Linked DNA regions of Homo sapiens. The protein of the gene in region 3 interacts with the protein of the main gene of each other region in a pairwise test. Each region holds a gene or a part of one and is shown on either strand. Other genes may lie near its edges. The genes, in order: RIMS4, INPP5J and PELI1.

Region 1 (3,746 bases), on a different chromosome or scaffold from region 3:
CTCAGTTGTTTTTTTCTGTAAAATGGTGATTATAAAAATGGTAAAATGTCTCTGCAGTAATCATCTTTACCCTTACCCCCATCCCCACCTCCAGGTCAATAGAAAGACAGGTCTATTGGGGATCTGCCTCACCTATCCCCATTCATTCACCAGTCAACAAATTCTTCTGGAGAAAGGGCAGGAAGACATGCCCACCACTTCATCCCATGATGGAACCTTGGTGGCCAGGTTGATCAGACAAGGGTCCCCAAAGACTAAGTCTAAACCTGGGCCCAGGAACTTCCTAAAACCGTAGGCTACATTTTGTGGATGGTGCATATATGCACTTCGGGAGAGATAGTCCATGTTTTCCTCAGAGACTTGAAAGTGCCCATGAAACCATTTTGCTCCTCAAGCACATACACTCCTCCAGCACATACACTCCTCTGTTTTGTTCCCCCATTGAATTCAAAGACTCTCGGATTTTCACCTTATAAAACACTGAACTCCACCCTCACACCATACAGAGCTTTGCATCGATACGATGATCCCCATTTCAGAGATGAGGAAATCCAGGCTCAGAGGTGGCATGACTTGCCCAAGGTCACAGCTAAGAAGTAGAGAATGAAGACTGGAACCTGATTCCGATTCCCAATCTGGCATTCTTTGGGGAACTCTCACCCAAGCCCTCTAGCTACCCCACCTGTTGGTGGATTCCCTTCCTCACCCCAGAACCAAATCCGGAGCTCTCATGTTCCTTCTGCCGGGTCCCAGGGCCCTAAAGAGTAGGTTTCCCTACAGCTCCCCACCCCTCGCTCTGGCTGAGGTTGTGCGCAGGCCTGGGAGGAGGAGGTTCAAGCCGCTGGCTGGTGGCCGGCTTCAGCCCACCAAGAAAGGCGACTCCAGGGACAAGAGCACCTGAGGTCAGGGGCACACACCAGCGGGCGGACAAGTGTAGAGTTGGCGCCGCCCTACACCTCTCTCCGGGAAGAGAGGGGAGGAAAGGCCGTCACCTGGCCGGTTCCCCTCCGTCTGCCCCAGGCGTATAAGAAGCAGGAGTCTGGAGCCCCAGCCCATGAGGGAAGGAGAGGAGAGATAAATGGGGGCGCTCAAGGCCTGGGGCGCCGGGCAGGGGTCTTGGGCAGGGATCCTCTGGATGTGGCCAAGACAAAGATGGAGAGGTAAGGTCTGCGCGCCACCTCCAATGGCGGGGGGCGCGTCGGAGCCCCAGGGGTGGGACGGCCAAAGCCCAGGGCTTGAAGAGTGGGCACATTCAGGAGACTCAGGGAGGGTGGCAGGTCGGCTCCAGGGACGAGGCAAGGGGCCTCCAATAGGCGCGGGTGAGGAGGGAGATGGGTCCTGGCGACCCAAAGGGCCCACCTGCGGGAAAGGTGAATGCAGACAATCTCGGGGTCCCTGGGGGAGAAGGCCAGAAGGTAGCGCATCCTGGAGACCCTGGGGTCCCGTGGGTGCGGAAGGAGACCCTGGGGGCGCCTTCCCAGGGGATTGGGGGTGGGGAGGAGGGCGCACGGGTCGGGGAGGGGGCTACCGGACCTGGATCCCGGGACACCCCGGGGGTCTGGGGGGCGGGCCGCGCGCTTACCTGCGTCCTCGTCGTCGAAGGAGTTCATGCACGGGAAGTAGATGGCGAGCGCCTCGAAGGAGGCGGACAGACTGAGGCGGCTCTGCGAGCGCTCCATGCCCGCGCCGGCGCCGGGCGCCTCGGCCGCGGCGGCGGCGGCGGCGGCGGGCGGCTTGGGCAGCTTGGCCGCCCCATTCTTGACGCGGAGTACGGCGCGCGGCGTGGTGGCGGCGGCCCGGGGCCGGGCCGAGGCTCCGCTGCGGGGCTGGCGGGCGCGGCGGGGCCGGCGGGCGGGCCAGGAGCTGGCGGCGCGCGGAGCCCGAGGCGCGCTGTGCTGCTGGCGGCGGCGGCGGCGGCGGCGGTGGCGGCGGCGGTGGCGGCGCAGCGCGCTCTGGTCCGCGGCGCCCCCCGCCGGCAGCGCGAGGCGGGCTTGGAGCGGCGCCGCAGCCAATCCGTGCCGCCGGGGGAGGGGGCGCCGCTGCGGGGCGTGGGAGCCCGGAGGGCGCGGGCTGCGGCCTCTTCTAGCAGCCCCCGGGCCCGGCAGGTGCGCGCGGGGAGGCAGGCGCCGGGCGAGGTTGTCTGGGCCCTGGTCCGAGGGCTGTTCCCGACCCCGCCTCGGCCCCCACCCTCAGCCGGCCGACTTGCGGAGAGGCCGGCGTCCAGTCCCTCACCCAGACAGGCCTCTCCCAGAGACACTGGCGCGCTCGGAGGGGATGCGCTCAAAGGGTCCCGCCCAGGCGGGTCGGCACTCGGCCTCCCACACAGAGACCCTCGGCTTCACACCTGCACCCACAGAGAAGCTCAAACAGGCACCCACACCTACACATTCACTCTGCAACATGCCCCGCAGACACCCGGACAGATACACCCACAGACCCACCCCCTCACAGATGCGGGGACAGACACGTCCACGGACACACGCAGACTCACGCAGAGACCTGCAAACACACTCAGGGAGGTAGGCAGGACATCCCTGGTGCCCGGCCTCCCTCACGGGGAGACTCTCAGATGCCACAAAACCCCACGAAGTTCAGGTAGGCATACACAGTCTCATGCATTCACACTTACCAAAGACACCCCAGAATTCATACACACATTCATACACTCAGATGAACACACAAGCCCAGACCCAGCACACACTCTGTGTCGCCTCCCCCTGTGATCATCTCAGCACTGTCAAACACTCTGACTGACACGGCCAGATGCACACACCTTCACCCTCAGACACACTAGAGTAGCACACACACGCCAAGACACAGCCACACAGACTCCATCCCTCCCAGTGTGGGTGCATCCCGACGGATTGACTGACACCCTCAGACTCAGGTACACTGAGACACACTTGGCAGGCTCACACTCACAGACTCTCCCATTATCACCCTCGGCGACCCGCAGTCCTCAGACACACACGGGCTCAGACACTCACAGCCCCAGGACAGAGACGAGCGAATCGGAAACCCGTGTTCCATTCCCTGCATGTGACCTGGGACGTGAGGGTCCCTGCCCACCTAATCAGGCCCCAGATGTCAAACAACCTTCTCAGCTGCTCGCACACCTCTTTATGAAGCCATCTGGCGACATGGAAACAGTTCAGGCCTCAGAAAGAGACAGCCCAGAGTTTGAATCTCAGCTGTGGTGCTGTCTTTCTGGGTGGCCTATGGCAAAACTCTTTATCCCATGGGTCCTGTTCCTCATCTGTACAATGGGGACAGGAGCCTTCCATTTTGGATGGTTGTGAACTGCCTGTAAGATAACACAGGTGTTTGTTTTCTATTGCTGCATAACAAATGAAGCAGCTTAAAAACACCAATCTAGTGATTTACAATCCTGTAGGTCAGAAGTCTGGGCAGCCTGAGCTGGGTTCTCTGCTTAGGGCCTCACAAAGTATTGGCCAGACTGGGCTCTTCTCTGCAGGCTCTGGAGAAGAATCCGCTTCCAAGATCATTCAGGTTGTTGGCAGGATTCAGTTCCTTGTGGTTGCAGGACTGAGGTTCCTGTTTCCTTGCTGGCTGTCAGCCAGAAGTCAACCTCAGCTCCTAGAAGTGGCTTTCTGGTCCTTTCACCTGGCCCCTTCCACCTTCAAGGCCAGTTTCAGGATGTCAAGCCCTTCTCATCCTTCAGTAGAATCTTTCTACCTTGGCTTCTGCTTACTGGCCTGAGAGATTCTGCTTTTAAAGGTCTCGTG
Region 2 (3,746 bases), on a different chromosome or scaffold from region 3:
GGCTGAGCCTTAGGACTGGTCCCAGAGGCCTGGATCTGCCCATCATTCCCTCTAGGATTGCATGAAAAGCTGGGTAGTCTTGGGGGCTCCCATTTTCTTTTTCTTTTTTCTTTTCTTTCTTTCTTTTTTTTTTTTTTTTTGAGACAGGGCCTCTCTCTGTCACCCAGGCTGGAGTGCAGTGGTACGATCTTGGCTCATTGCAACCTCCACCTCCACCTCCCAGGTTCAAACAATTCTCCTGTCTCAGCCTCCCAAGTCGCTGAGACTACAGGCATGTACCACCACACCCGGCTCATTTTTATATTTTTAGTGGAGATGGGGTTTCGCCATGTTGACCAGGCTGGTCTCGAACTCCTGACCTCAGGTGATCTGCCCACCTCAGCCTCCCAAAGTGCTGGGATTACCCGCACTTTGCCAGTACTCCCCCAGCCCGGGGGCTCCCATTTTCTTATTTGTAAAACAGGAGACAGAGGATAAGACAGGATGAGTTCGAATCTTCCTTTTTCTGGTAACCTGAGCATCACCACCAGGTCTACTCTCACATCCTCCCTGACTGTCACCTCCAACTCCAACACTACCTCTTTCATTGACACAACACCATCATCAGTATTGGTATCATCATCACCTCTACCTTTGCCATCACCATCACCTCCACCACCTTCACCACAACCACTGCTAGCCCCCTACTTCCATCATCACAGTTACATACATCATCACATCCATCACCACAGTCGCCTTCCCCGTCACCACTGTCACCATCTCCACTATCGCTGTCCAAAGACCTTTCTACCCCAACACTCTAATATGGCCTGAGTCTCTGCCCCTGCAAATTCCAGCAGAGATGCTGGCCTGAGAATACAGACTAGACCTACTGACAGTCAAGCAGAGGTAGGAAGTGCCTTCAGGAGAGGAAAGTGAGGCATCTGCCTTCATGTAGGAGACTGCACAGGCCCATGCAGATGCTCCATGTTGGTTAACAGGGAGCTCTGCACACACAACTCTGAACACTTTCTGCCTAAAGTGGGTGGGATCACTCCTCTCTAAGCCATGAGAAACAGATCCCACAGCCATCCCAGCCCAATCTGACCCTCATCACCCATTCACTCTTCTAATTCATTTATTCATTCAACAAACACTCCCGTAGGCCTGTTGGGGACCATGTCCTGGGCTGGGTCCTGGCTGTAGCAATTCTCAGGCCTGTTTGTAACTCTCTTGTCAGTCTGTTACCCCACTGCTGGGCCCTTCTCCACCCAAGTTCCCTTCCCCCAGATAGCTCGAAGGGCTTGTGCTCATCCTAGGTCACTAAGTTTTCTCACTGAAACACAGGAGACCTTCTCAGTTCACCAGGTGACCTTGAGCAAGTTCCCCTCCCAAACCACACCCAGTGAATACTGGAGAGAAGAAAGCTGACAGAAGCCGGGCTGGGTTAGGCCTGGCTGTGGGGACATCTGAGGGCAGCTAGGTGTCTGCAGAAGAGGAGGGGCTGGTGCTGAGGCCTGAGATGGGAAAAGACTGCAGTGGCTGGAGCCTGAGTGTCTGGTTCTGGGTTGGGAAGAATAGAGCCTGGGACTGGCAGTAGGAGTGGAGAGGGTGGCACCAAGACCTGAAAATGGGGCAAGGGTGGGGGCCGGGGCAAGCTCTGAGCTGGCAGGGAGCCAGGAAGGTCACAGGATCAGGGCAAGAACTCAGTTGTCTCTGAGGCCCTGGAGAGGGTGCAGACCTCTGAACCACCTGTCCTACCTTAAGGCAGGTGTGTTAATGCCCCTCCCTGGAGCAAAGGGCTGACCAGGCCTACGGCAGAAAGGTGAAGGTAGACAGACAGCCTCCTTCCTGCTGCCAGTTGGGACCTGGGCCAGGCAGATGGGTACACTCTCCCCTCCCCACTCCATGGCTGTTCCAGCCTCAGCAGCCAGTTTGAAGGATTCCCAGGGGGTAGCCACCTTGCTTCGGCCTCTTCCAGGCTGGGAAGTGGGAGCCTGTGCCTTTAAATTCTCAGCAGGTTGAAATGGCTGATGACATCACTGGTTCCCGGGAGCGGTAGAGCTGGAGCCGGAGCCAAGGGAGTCCAGGCTGCCGGGGGCTGCAGACATGGAGGGCCAGAGCAGCAGGGGCAGCAGGAGGCCAGGGACCCGGGCTGGCCTGGGTTCCCTGCCCATGCCCCAGGGTGTTGCCCAAACTGGGGCACCCTCCAAGGTAAGACCCCTGAGACCCAGTGCCCCCCGCTTTCCTGATCCCTGGTTCCACACACCCCCCCCACATACACTGCAGGCTCCCTGGTGCTCCTGACTGAGGGGCTGGTACTTTCCTCTGCTCAGCGAGCAGGGGCTAGGTGAAGAGAGCACCCTGGGGGCTGAGGGGCAGTGACAGGATGCCCGGAGACAGATGAAGTTAGCCATCTCCAGGAGCCCTTGGGAGAGTCCTGGACTGGGTATCAGAGGACCCAGCTGTGCTCCACCTTTGCTGTGTGACCTTGGCCAAGTTGCTTTTCCTCTCTGAGCCAATGCAAAATGAGGGGGCTTGTCGCTGAAGACTAAAACTGTGACATCTGGGATGGCTAAGTTGTTAGTACTGGAGGCGGTGTGATAGTTGGGGGGAAGCCGGCACACAGTGTGACACTTGGAGCCAAGGAGGGTGCCTAAAATGCCACCTCAAAGAACTGAGTTTGAGAAGGGAGGTGGAGATGGAGTTTTAGGTACTCTGAACTGAGAAGGATACGGGACAGAAACAGAAGTGCGTCTCCAGAGGCAGGGCCTCCCTGCGCCCTGTTACCCTACCTAGGGCCATCCTGGGGCAAGTATAGACATTCTTCTGCCCTCCTTGGTGAAGGACACTTTATCCTGTCTTCTGGAGACAGGGGACATCAGAGAGAATAGATGGGGAAGGAGGATAGGTCTCTACAGGACTCCGTGACTCCCCACCCCTCCCACCTGCCGGACATAAATGGGATACCTGCTTGCCTGTCCTTTCAGGTAGGGGAGAAAGTGGAGGATGTAAGAGGGCACAACCTGGGCACAGAGAGATGTGACACCAGGATCAACTTAGAATCCTGGACTTGCTCTGAATGCTAGATTCACACTTGGTGAGGATGGACTATTCAACGGGGCTAGATGGAATTCTAGCAAATGTTGGGCTCATAAATGCAGACAATGGGAGATGAAGATTCCCCAGAATATAATGTGGCCAGGAACCCTAGACCCCATCCCTTCATTTTACAGACAGAGAAACTGAGGCGCTGGGCAGAGAGGTACTTGCCTAAGGTCACACAGAGCTGGGCTTTGAATCTACACAGCCAGTCTCAGCTCCCAGCTCTTGCTCCTGAGTGGAGCTCTGGGAATGGGTAAGAGAACAGAGAGGGCTGTAACCAAGGGATTTGGATGTTTAGGGGGCGGTGGGGAACTGAGGGTTTCTGGGCATTATGAAGGAAGGGAGAGGTATTTAACAAGCTGCACCTGTAGGTCTGTATCTTGACAATAGAAAAAGAAAAGAAACAGGCTGTCCCCAGTGTGCCCAGACCTGGGATGTCAGGTCAGTAGCCGTGGCTGGGGGAGCTTCAGGGACTGCAGTGGGAGGGTTGCCCAGGGAAGCTGCCCCGAATGGGCAGGGTGTGGGTGCCAGCCAGGAAGGCAAGGCAAGTCCTCAGGTTTAGGTTCACACTCTGCCTCATTTGAGTCAGGGTCTGAGTTTCCCCATCTGTGAAAGAGGTTTCAGACTTAAAGGAGGGGTTAGGGTTTTGTGTCCTATCTCCT
Region 3 (3,746 bases):
AAAAAGTGCCTTTAATGACATCTCTGATTTGTTGAATCAGTCATCCCTATAGACTGCCTTTTTCCTGAACTTTCTAGCTAGATGGTTCAATAAATCTCCTTTATTGGTTAAGCCAGTTAGAGCTGGGTTTTCTGCTGCTTTCAACCACAAGCATCATAATTCATAACTTTACTTTTCCCTTCACCCCCAAACCTAGGCAATTAGTCACTATGTTCTATATTCTATCCCCTGAATAGTGTCTGATTACCCTCAGTTTTCTCTTCTGCCACTGCCTTACCTTAGTTCAGTCTCTCATGGTTTTTTCCCCTGTAATACTGTAACAGGTCCCATACATACCACACTCCATAGAGTGATCTTTCTAAAATGCCTATCTTATCAAAATTCCATCTGCTTACAATCCTTGTGTGGCTTCCCATTGTTTCCAGGAAAAGGTTCATGTTCCTTAGCATATTGTGCAAGATTCTTCATTACCTAAGCTGTCTCCCTTACCTTTTTCAGTGTCTCCTCTTGCCACTCCCCCAACTCCATTCTACTGCCAGCAATGCAACTATTTGCTGAACCAAAATACGTTTGGGTCTCACACCTTTAGGTATTTGTGCTTGATGCTCTCCCCAACACCACCCCCAATGCTCTCACCCACCTCTCTCTTCCTCCTCCCCTACCAAAATACACAAACATGTTAATTCCTAGTTATCTCAAGTGATCTTTGAAGCATTTCCTGATTTTGCCCACATCTGTGGGTAGCTTTGCATTTTCCTATTGTAGTACTTCTCAAATTAAGTCTATTTACCTGTCTCCTCCTTTGCATAGTAAGCACTCTGAAAATAAGAATGTTTCTTTTACATTTTTGTATCTCTATTTCTGGGGCTCAAAACAGTGCCTAGCACAAGTAGACACTCAACAAGCATTTTTTGAATGAGTGTATAATTATATAGTCTGTAGATATAAGGATTTCTGATCTTGAGACTCTCTGAAAGCCTTGCTCCAAAAGTGTGTCTGATTCCTAAGCATTAATCTTTTTCTTCCAGGGTGTGGGGTTCTAGGTAGGTGGAGAAGGAAAACAAAAGCGCTCAGGACGCGTTGCCTTTAGCTCTCCGGAGAGCCAGTAATGTGTCCTGCCTTTCTCCACCCTCCTCCCTACCACCTTTCCACACCTGGGTGCCCAAGATGGGTGTAGACTTAGCTGACCAGCCCAACAACATACTCATACCTTGGTTCAGACTTCTCTTATTACCAAACTAAAGTTGGCCAATACACATAAACAATTTTCAACTTGTCTTTTGAACGTATACTTTATGAAATTTGTATGTCTTAAAAATTGTAGGCCTTAAAATGAACGAACCCGGATTCTTTTATAGTAATCAAGTAAAATATAGGGGTCTTAATTCTGTACTTTGCCTTTGCTAATCTTAAAGTTAGATGTGACTAACTGAGCAAAGTAATTAATTACGGGACTTTGATAGTGGTGATATTCCTAAGTTTTATAACCTAATTGTTCAATTACTGGAAACAACTACATTTCGACAAGTCTTAGGTAAAGAAAATTGAATTTAGCCGGAGAAGATTCAATTGAGGGAAGTGAGGGACAGAGGTATTTGTGATTTAGGGTTTGTGGAAGATAAATTACGCAGCAGGGAAGACTGAAATATGGAGAGAAAGTCAGACCTCACTGGGTACTTATGACTGGTAAGGCTAGGAGTTGGAGGTGGAGAAAAGTAGGAAGGACCGTCTAAGGGTTGGATCCCCAACAACACCATAATACAAGACCGTCCTTGTTCAGCCAACAGCAGCACTGAACACGTTCGCTAAGTGTGTCGGTGACCATGGTAACGGTGGGAGGGGGCGGTCCAAACCTCGCCCTCGAGCATGCTCAGTGCAGAGCGAGCCTGGTAGGGTGCTGGACAACAATGAATCCCTTTTTTCTTCAACCGGAGAACTACAATTCCCAAGAGCCTTCTCGGTGCGGCGACACCGCCTTCCGCTGTGGCCCTGCCCGGTCCCCTCCCTCAGGCCCCGCCCCCCGGCTAGACCCCTCCCCTCCTTGCGAGTGTATGTCAGTGACCCAGAGGCGGTGTGAGGCGGAGGGACCGTCGGGGGGCGCCGCCGCCGCCTCCACTAGCAGCAGCGGCAGCAGCCCTAGTCCCGCGGTGCGGTCGAATTGGTCCCCAGCCCTCCGGGAGCGCACCACAAAGCAGCCCCAACGCCTCTCCCTGCGTCCGCGGCTCCTCAGCGCTCGGCTCCGTGGTCAACTTCCCCTCGCTGGGCTCGGCTGGCGGGCGCGGAGGGCAGCGGCGGAACGGCGGGCTGTCTGCTCGCGCTCCCCGCGCACAACACTTCACCCTCTCGCCTCGGGTCTCGGGGGCCGCTCTGGGATCCCGGCCACCAGCAATTGTCCGGTAAGTGTGACCGCGGGGCGCCGCGGGATGGATGGCGGCGGGGCCGCCGAGGGGCGCGGGGAGGGCGGGCGCGCAACTTCCTCGGCGGCTTCCCCGGCGGCCAGCAGCCGGCTCTCCCCGCCCGCCTGCGCGCCCCCGCTGCGGCGGGGAGCGGAGTTTGCGGCGCCTGCATCCCGCGCCCTGGCTCGAGGAAGCGCCTTTGTCAGGAACCGGCCCTACGCGGCCTCCCCCTCCGCCCGGGAGCGGGGCGCGCGGCGGCCAACTCCGAGCCCCGCGCCTGGCTGGCCGCGCGCTCCGGCTGCGAGAGGGGAGCTCTGCGGGTGGCGGGGAGGAGAGGGAAATGGGAGAAACAAAAGGGGCGGTGGGTTTCCCTTTTGTTTGTGCGGATCTGATAACTTCTTTTCCTCCCTTACATAACGCAGACTTCAAGTTAGTCATTCTTTTTATTGTTATGATTGTTGTCATCATCTCTGCGCGTCTTTCACATTTCCTTTCATCTTTGGATCTCAGAGCATTTTAAACACGCTAATTAATTTCACCCCCGGGTCCCCTAGGAAACAAGTTAATACGCCCGTTTCCCTAAGTGGGTAAACTGAGGTCGTGAAAAGCTCTCAAATTGATGGATACGCTTGATCTTCTACCGCGCCTCGTGTCTGAGTATATGAAAGCGTTTATGAGGAAGAACCCGTTCTCCAAAGCCCCGTGGAAAAGTTAAAGATGCTCATTTTACTTACAGGTTAACTGAAGTCCAAAAGATGTCTAGGTAATTGTTACGTAGTTCAAACCATAATTCTTCTTACATAGTGTTTGAATCTTAAAACCTCTAAAGACTTAGTGAAAAATGCTCCGAGTAGGGAAATTAATGTAAATCATAAACTCACGTCACCATCTACTTTTATTTTTGTACGTGCAGGTCTGTTAGAGGCAAGAGAGCAAGAAGGGGACAGAGGGCAGAGGTTTTTTAAAAATGTACATTTAACAGATTTTAATCACTACACACAAGGAAATGTGCCTTGGTTTTAACAGCACCAACAATATTCCTGTCGTTTAGTCATCAAACAGTATATCAACAAATGTTATTGAGAACTTTATTCATAAGGTGCTGGTTGTGCTAAAAACTGAAGCTTTATATATAAGAAAAGGTCATCTGTTTCGGTTCACAGGCTCTTTACTTTTTCTTACTCTGCAAAATGTTACTTTGTTTTCATTGCACATGATCTTTTGTTTCAGAAATGGCATTGTCCTTTACTGTGTCGAATATGTATTACTCTTACACTTAAGGATAAATGAATTTATTATTAAGTTTTCATAATAGGGTGAATTTAAAATATTTTAATTGTGGTAAAGGTT

Evidence for each region.
Region 1: the proteins of PELI1 (region 3) and RIMS4 interact in binary tests that used the Homo sapiens proteins (3 or more experiments, as listed by UniProt).
Region 2: the proteins of PELI1 (region 3) and INPP5J interact in binary tests that used the Homo sapiens proteins (3 or more experiments, as listed by UniProt).

Annotation. Positions count from the first base shown.
Region 1 is NC_000020.11:44,808,593-44,812,338, forward strand, and holds the start of RIMS4 (regulating synaptic membrane exocytosis protein 4), read right to left. Parts: upstream 1,955-3,746; 5' UTR 1,680-1,954; coding exon 1,583-1,679; intron 1-1,582. UniProt on the Homo sapiens protein: Regulates synaptic membrane exocytosis.
Region 2 is NC_000022.11:31,120,927-31,124,672, forward strand, and holds the start of INPP5J (phosphatidylinositol 4,5-bisphosphate 5-phosphatase A), read left to right. Parts: upstream 1-2,039; 5' UTR 2,040-2,088; coding exon 2,089-2,193; intron 2,194-2,969; exon of another isoform or gene 2,970-3,079; intron 3,080-3,215; exon of another isoform or gene 3,216-3,337; intron 3,338-3,746. UniProt on the Homo sapiens protein: Inositol 5-phosphatase, which converts inositol 1,4,5-trisphosphate to inositol 1,4-bisphosphate.
Region 3 is NC_000002.12:64,142,731-64,146,476, reverse strand, and holds the start of PELI1 (E3 ubiquitin-protein ligase pellino homolog 1), read left to right. Parts: upstream 1-2,056; 5' UTR 2,057-2,396; intron 2,397-2,950; exon of another isoform or gene 2,951-3,159; intron 3,160-3,746. UniProt on the Homo sapiens protein: E3 ubiquitin ligase catalyzing the covalent attachment of ubiquitin moieties onto substrate proteins. Involved in the TLR and IL-1 signaling pathways via interaction with the complex containing IRAK kinases and TRAF6.